Linked DNA regions of Homo sapiens. The protein of the gene in region 1 purifies or fractionates together with the protein of each later gene. This does not show direct contact. Each region holds a gene or a part of one and is shown in the gene's direction. Other genes may lie near its edges.

Region 1 (3,813 bases):
GCAGTGAGCTGTGGTCATGCCACTGCCCTCCACTACAGCCTGGGCAAGAGAGCGAGAACTTGTCTTATAAGAAAAGAAAAAGAGGCTGGGCACGGTGGCTCATGCCTGTAATCCTGGCACTTTGGGAGGCTGAGGCGGGTGGATCACAAGGTCAAGAGATCGAGCCAACCAACATGGTGAAACCCCATCTCTACTAAAAATACAAAAATTAGCTGGGCGTAGTGGTGCACACCTGTAGACCCAGCTACTACTCGGGAGGCTGAGGCAGGAGAATCGCTTGAACCCGGGAGGCGGAGGTGCAGTGAGCCGAGATAGCGTCACTGCACTCCAGCCTGGGTGACAGAGTGAGACTCCGTCTCATTAAAAAAAAAAAAAAAAGTTAGAAGACTGAGAAAAGAAAAATAATGAAATAATTTAGAGCAGTCTGAGCTATGTGAGGTATGCAAAATTTATCAGGACAAGTGAGGCAGGAGTATAGGTCTTCAGTTAAGACCCCATGTTTAAAAGCATTTTGTTCCTGACTGGCTGCCTCATCTATTACCTACATATTCCCGAGATTTGTAATACAAAGAACAATGTATAGCCAGTCAAAAGCTTATGCTATTTTAATGTAAATTCTTGGCAAACAACTTTAAAACTGCTTTAAAACTGCTTTTTTTCCTCTAAACAACCACTTGTAACTGCTTGCTAATGAGGGCAACTTGAAACTCTGCACTTGGGTTGCAGTTCTCAAACGTGGCCCAAACAACCTCAGCCTCAACTTCTTCCTTTTAGGTCCTCTTTTCTTCAATACAAAATGAGATAATAGGGGTTGGAAGGAAAACCTTCAAGACCTATGGAAGTCAGTTGCAGCCAGCTCATCACATAGAGGTGCAGGTGAGGTGTATTTTCATCACGGTGGAAAATTCTGGCTGCTTCATCTCCATCTCTAGAGCCAATATTGGAGCTTTTCAATAAAAGCTATGGCCTCAACCACCAGCACCAAGAAGATGATGGAGGAAGCCACCTGCTCCATCTGCCTGAGCCTGATGACGAACCCAGTAAGCATCAACTGTGGACACAGCTACTGCCACTTGTGTATAACAGACTTCTTTAAAAACCCAAGCCAAAAGCAACTGAGGCAGGAGACATTCTGCTGTCCCCAGTGTCGGGCTCCATTTCATATGGATAGCCTCCGACCCAACAAGCAGCTGGGAAGCCTCATTGAAGCCCTCAAAGAGACGGATCAAGAAATGTCATGTGAGGAACACGGAGAGCAGTTCCACCTGTTCTGCGAAGACGAGGGGCAGCTCATCTGCTGGCGCTGTGAGCGGGCACCACAGCACAAAGGGCACACCACAGCTCTTGTTGAAGACGTATGCCAGGGCTACAAGGTGAGTGTGTGGGCCCGGGAGCTTTGGTAAGTACCAAGTCTTATCCTGCTCCCCAGGAGCTGAGATGATTTAACTTGAAACCTAACATTATGACTTGGAAATACAGCTTTCATCATGTCATTCTTCTGAAAAATAGTTTATGATGATTTCTTGCTCAATTATCTAGACTGTCCATCCTGACCTTCAATGGGATGGTTGGACTCTTATCTCTATCCATTTGTGTTATGATGAATTTCTTTTTGCTTTAGAACAGGTTGTTCTCAAACCAAACACCCGCATTTTTTCTTGTTTCACACCATGAATATCATTTGAAAAACCACAATATGTAAAGCCATGCAGTAGGGCCTGAAAACAGGGAAGAAAGACCCATCACCTTTTAGGTATCTACAGTCTAGTAAAGAAAACAAACCATCAAAAATGTCTGCCTGGAGGTCCCTGGTTTTGGTGGTGGGGAGGGACATTTAGGGTAGAGAGTGGTTCATCTTAGAAGTAACTCCTGAAGGACACGTAAAAATTGAACACCTATTGGGGGATTTTCATTTGGGGAATGAAGGGTCAGTGACATTGAAAATATCACTCTGGTACCTCTACTTTTTTTTTTTTTTTTTTTTTTTTTTCCTGAGGTAGGGTCTTGCTCTGTATCCCAGGTTGGAGTACAATGGTGCAATCTCGGCTCACTGCAGCCTCAACCTTCTGGGGCTCAAGCAATCCTCCCACCTCAGCCTCCCAAGTAGCTAGGACTACAGGGATGCCCCACCATACCTGGATAATTTTTTTATTTTTTGTAGAGACATGGTCTGCCTTTCTTGCTTATACTGGCCTCAAACCCCTGGTCTCCCTCCCATCTCAGCCTCCCAAAATGCTGGGATTAGAGGCATGAACCACTGTGCCCAGCTACTGTGGCATGTCTATGATAAAAGGAATATCAAGGAGTAAAATTCAAACTATCCGTATAAGAAAGGGAGGAGAGGGCAGATTTTAAGCACGATTCAGGAAGAAGAGTCAAAGATTTGGAAATGCTTGGTTGTGGAAGGTGAAGCAGAGGGAGAGGTTTTGTGTACCATCCAGATTTCTTGCCAGAAAGCATATTAAGGAAGGTGGGACTTTGCTGTTGGCAGCATGGAGGAATGGGCATAGTCCTGATGTCCTTTTTCCTTCTCTGTCCTGCCTAAATTTGAGGAAAATGTTGTCTCCAGTGTCAGGCTCCTTATTCTGTCCTCCATGAGGCAGAGGTGGTCTTGTATGAAGGCTCTAAGTCCTTCTAAGGACATGTCAATCATGACCACCACTCAGCTCATGGCAGCTCTTCCTTAAACTCCATGGAGCAGCTAATAACTGCGATGATCATATTCCCATTTGAATTACTTTTCCACCAAGTAGTAAGAAAAGGAACCAGCTTATGTTGAAATTGAGTTTTGTCACTTACTAGATGGGCAATTTTGGGCACGTTACTTAATGTCTTCACACCTTGGTTTCTCCATCTGTAAATGGGGATAATAGCAGTGTCCTCCCTCCCTAAAACACATACACAGGAGGTGGTTATAAGCTTTGAGGACATTAAAATATAGAATGCATAGAATAGCACTTGGCATATAGTAAGGACAATGTCATCTTTTGCTAAAACAGTTACATAGAACCTTTTCCTGAGAACACTCGAGAATGAATGAGTATACTTGTTGGGTTTACAGAGGACAGGAGACAATTCTTTCAGCATTGACTACAATTAGCAATTTGGGTCAGCTTCAAATCACTTTCAATAGAAATATGAGAAACTGTTTTGAAGAATAAGCTAAAAGCTTGACATGAATACTAAATCATTTTAAATTGGATTCATGATACCATTGTTCAAAAGATACCAGAATTCCCCTCTTCCATGAACTGTTTCTAATAACCAGCTGGCATCCTGATTTTTCCTGACTCATAAGACACAAAATTTCATGTGTGCCAAACACTGGTATTGGTTTTGCTTGGTTCAGCATGTTGTTTTACAAAATCTTTTAGATGATGATTACCTTGTTCTATATCCAACTTTTTCCTGGCAGGACTCTAGTGGTGGACATAGCTCAGGCTCTGGGTCAGCAGATGAGATTGCAATTGTTGCTCCACCACCTGGCAGTCATAGCCCTTTGGGCAAGTTATTTTACCCCTTTCTTAGTCTCATTTTCTACAGCACAGAAATGAAGTTTAAAATCCTACCAACTATTCAGGGTTGCCAAGGGGATCAGTATGTTCCTGCACATATAGCCTTTAGCATGCTCTCTAGCAAAAAACAATGAGGACTCTATAAATATTCACTATTATTCAAATATATCTTAGAAGATTGGGATTCCCCCTAGGTCCCTAATGAAGAGTCAAATTGAATAGGCTTCACTTATCAAATTTTTCCTTCAGGAAAAGCTCCAGAAAGCTGTGACAAAACTGAAGCAACTTGAAGACAGAT
Region 2 (3,813 bases), on another chromosome or scaffold:
TTATTATTTCAGCCACAGTGTCAGAAATACATTTCATTTTTGAAAACATTTTATTTTCACATTTTATTAATTTAGGAAGGCCTTCTCTTCCAGGCCTGGGACCCACATGAGTGAGGTTTGCCCAGCCTCAGTCTGCAGTCAAGTTCATTTATTCTTGTGTGTGTTTTCTTAGCAAGTTCCTAGCCATTTTCCCATGTTGGTCTGGCTTCCCTGTGGGCATTTCAAAGGCAGGGAAGGCCTCCTCCTCCGAGGCTCCTCAGCATCAGGGGGACCCATCAGGGCTGGTGGGCAGGGTCTAATGTCCTTCTCCTCACAGGGAGCCCGTTCCGCGTGCCAGTGAAGGATGTGGTGGACCCTGGGAAGGTGAAGTGCTCAGGGCCAGGGCTGGGGGCTGGTGTCAGGGCCCGGGTTCCTCAGACCTTCACAGTGGATTGCAGTCAAGCTGGCCGGGCGCCCCTGCAGGTGGCTGTGCTGGGCCCCACAGGTATAGAATGGCCGGGGCAGGGAGGAGGGAGGTGGGGCGGGACGCCCGGAGGCTCTGCTGACCCTGTGCCCCTTGCCCAGGTGTGGCCGAGCCTGTGGAGGTGCGGGACAATGGAGATGGCACCCACACTGTCCACTACACCCCAGCCACTGACGGGCCCTACACGGTAGCCGTCAAGTATGCTGACCAGGAGGTGCCACGCAGGTGAGGACCAGCCCTGGGCTCCTGTGCTGCGGCTGAGCTCTGGGGTGCTCCTGCTGGGGTGGCACTCAGGATCACTGCTGGAGTCCCCTGGGAGAGCCTCTCCCAGCTCTCAGCCTCGTCCAGTCTCGCCACCCCATCCCGCTCTTCCCCGGGGCTCTCTGCTGTGAGGCTTTCCTGCCCCAGGAGCTTTTACGGCAAACCTAGCGCCTTAGGAAGAGTGCAGGAGGCCTGGGCCAGGGCCTCCTCCTGGACCCTCCCACAGCACCTTCCTGGGGAATGGAGACGTACCCTGGCTCTGTCGAGGGAGTCCCAGAGTGCCCCCACCCCCAGACATGGAATGTCATCGGCTTCTGGGAACTGGTCCCTCCTCCCTGCCCCACAGTCCTCCCTCCTGCCCATGTCTATGGGGAGGACTCTGGCTCAAGATGAGATCACCCCCCACCGCCCCGTCCATGCCACCCAGCCAACTGTTTATCCCTTCTGCTCCTCAAGCCCCTTCAAGATCAAGGTCCTCCCAGCTCATGATGCCAGCAAGGTGCGGGCCAGCGGCCCAGGCCTCAACGCCTCTGGCATCCCTGCCAGCCTGCCTGTGGAGTTCACCATCGACGCACGGGACGCGGGCGAGGGGTTGCTCACTGTCCAGATCTTGGTGAGTCTCTGTGCATCCCACCCCGCAGGTCATGCTCCAGGCACAGGCGGGCCTTGACCTCTGCTTCTCCCTCAGGACCCCGAGGGTAAGCCCAAGAAGGCCAACATCCGGGACAATGGGGATGGCACGTACACTGTGTCCTACCTGCCGGACATGAGTGGCCGGTACACCATCACCATCAAGTATGGCGGTGATGAGATCCCCTACTCGCCCTTCCGCATCCATGCTCTGCCCACTGGGGATGCCAGCAAGTGCCTCGTCACAGGTGGGTGCCCACCCGCTGCCCGTGCCCTGCTCACCACCCAGCCCCTCAAAGCCCCTCCAGAACCCTGGCCTGGTCCCCAGGGGTCTGCTGGTCGGAGAGCACACATGCCCTAGCCCTGGCCCCTCCCTCCCTCACCCCCGCCCAATGCCCCAGCCCACGTTGAGCACCGCCTGGCCTCACACTCTTCTCTCTTTCCAGTGTCCATTGGAGGCCATGGCCTGGGTGAGTGCCCTTTCTCTCCTCTTCTTGGTGTGGGCCAGGGTGGTTGGCGGTAGGGGGCGGGCAGCGGGAACAGAGAGGGCTGGCTCCAGCCCACCAGCTCCCTGAGCAGGATCTCCCGCATGGCAGGTGCCTGCCTGGGCCCTCGAATCCAGATTGGGCAGGAGACGGTGATCACGGTGGATGCCAAGGCAGCCGGTGAGGGGAAGGTGACATGCACGGTGTCCACGCCGGATGGGGCAGAGCTCGATGTGGATGTGGTTGAGAACCATGACGGTACCTTTGACATCTACTACACAGCGCCCGAGCCGGGCAAGTACGTCATCACCATCCGCTTCGGGGGTGAGCACATCCCCAACAGCCCCTTCCACGTGCTGGTAAGTTCTGTAGCCACAGCAAGACTAGATGGCTGGGGAGGGGGGCCTGGCCCTTTTAGCAGCAGCAGGGATCCCAGATAACTGTCCCCAAGGAATCCCACTTCTCTGAGGGCTCCTGGGGCCAGAGTGCTCCAGGATGGAGCCTTAACTTTCCCCACAGCACCCCCGAAGTGGGAGGAGAGCATGGCCCTGCCCCCTGCCCAGTGCTGTCAGCTGTCTCTGGAGGAACCCGCTGTGCTCTCCACCATCCCCAGCTCCATCTCCCCAGAGGCTGCCCTGCAGGAGGATGAACACCCAAATTATCACCCAGCATTTCAGGTTCCTGGGCCATTCTCTGAGTCAGCCCCTAGGCCTGTGAGGCTGCCACACCCTGTGCCCCCGTGCCTTGCCTCCCCAGGCGTGTGACCCCCTGCCGCACGAGGAGGAGCCCTCTGAAGTGCCACAGCTGCGCCAGCCCTACGCTCCTCCCCGGCCCGGCGCCCGCCCCACACACTGGGTACTGCGCCTCCCACCAGGCGATGTCCTCCTCCTCCTCCCCTTCCTTCATTTCTTCTCTCTACTCCTCTGCAGCCAGGGCGGGGACATGGTCTGGGGGCCTCTTGGGGAGCAGGCAAGAGTTAGGCTGGGCAGATGGAACCCCACTTGGGCACAGCACTCCTTCTCTTGCAGCTGACGCACCTCTCCTGCCACGCTGGTTTCATGATTAACTACCTTGTTCTTTCCTCACTCTCCAGCTTCAGTCATAGCATGGGTCAAACTCCTGGGCCTTCCCCAGTCACTGACTGTTCCCTCTCACCTGCTGCAGGCCACAGAGGAGCCAGTGGTGCCTGTGGAGCCAATGGAGTCCATGCTGAGGCCCTTCAACCTGGTCATCCCCTTCGCGGTGCAGAAAGGGGAGCTCACAGGTACTGCCCTGTGGCTCCCAGGCATGAGGGCTGAGGGGAGAAACCCTCTTCCAGGCCCAGTCCTGTGTCTTAATGATGAAAACAAAGGCCCAGAGAGAGGAAGTGAGCTCTACCCAGGGTCACACAGCAAGTTGGGCAGAGCCAGAACTCAGGTGCAAGCCATCTGTCCCCAGTTCAGGGCTCAGGCCACTGCCACAGGCTGTCTCTTGATGCCTGGCTTCTCGGGTGGCAGCAGAAGCACTCAGGACCAGGCCTGGGACAGCAGGGAGGTTGCAGTGGGGGAAACCAGGGTCTCCACGTAACTGTGTCTGCCCTGCAGGAGAGGTGCGGATGCCCTCGGGGAAGACGGCACGGCCCAACATCACCGACAACAAGGACGGCACCATCACGGTGAGGTATGCACCCACTGAGAAAGGCCTGCACCAGATGGGGATCAAGTATGACGGCAACCACATCCCTGGTGAGTTAGGGGCTGGGCTGGGCTGGGGCTTGGGTGAGAGGAGCAGGCCGTAGCTTCAGTCCTGCCTTCCCTCTTTCAACAAATATTTATTGAGCACCCGCTGTGTGCAGACACCAGGCGAGGCCCCAGGGAGGCTTATACCCTGGTGGGAAGCAGACCTCCACCAGCTGGGTCCCTACGGCACAGACGGAGGGGGTTGGCAGGGAGGCTGCTGGAAGGTGCTGGGGCCAAGGTGGGCTCAGATAATCCC

What was found.
Region 2: the proteins of TRIM38 (region 1) and FLNC purify together in Homo sapiens (affinity purification with mass spectrometry, with the first as the bait; one large-scale study listed by BioGRID). This does not show direct contact.

What each region holds. Positions count from the first base shown.
Region 1 is NC_000006.12:25,965,561-25,969,373, forward strand, and holds part of TRIM38 (E3 ubiquitin-protein ligase TRIM38), read left to right. Parts: intron 1-774; 5' UTR 775-962; coding exon 963-1,373; intron 1,374-3,764; coding exon 3,765-3,813. UniProt on the Homo sapiens protein: E3 ubiquitin-protein and E3 SUMO-protein ligase that acts as a regulator of innate immunity. Acts as a negative regulator of type I interferon IFN-beta production by catalyzing 'Lys-48'-linked polyubiquitination of AZI2/NAP1, leading to its degradation.
Region 2 is NC_000007.14:128,847,381-128,851,193, forward strand, and holds part of FLNC (filamin-C), read left to right. Parts: intron 1-316; coding exon 317-484; intron 485-564; coding exon 565-688; intron 689-1,180; coding exon 1,181-1,337; intron 1,338-1,412; coding exon 1,413-1,602; intron 1,603-1,800; coding exon 1,801-1,824; intron 1,825-1,950; coding exon 1,951-2,198; intron 2,199-2,595; coding exon 2,596-2,694; intron 2,695-2,781; exon of another isoform or gene 2,782-3,003; coding exon 3,004-3,103; intron 3,104-3,422; coding exon 3,423-3,563; intron 3,564-3,813.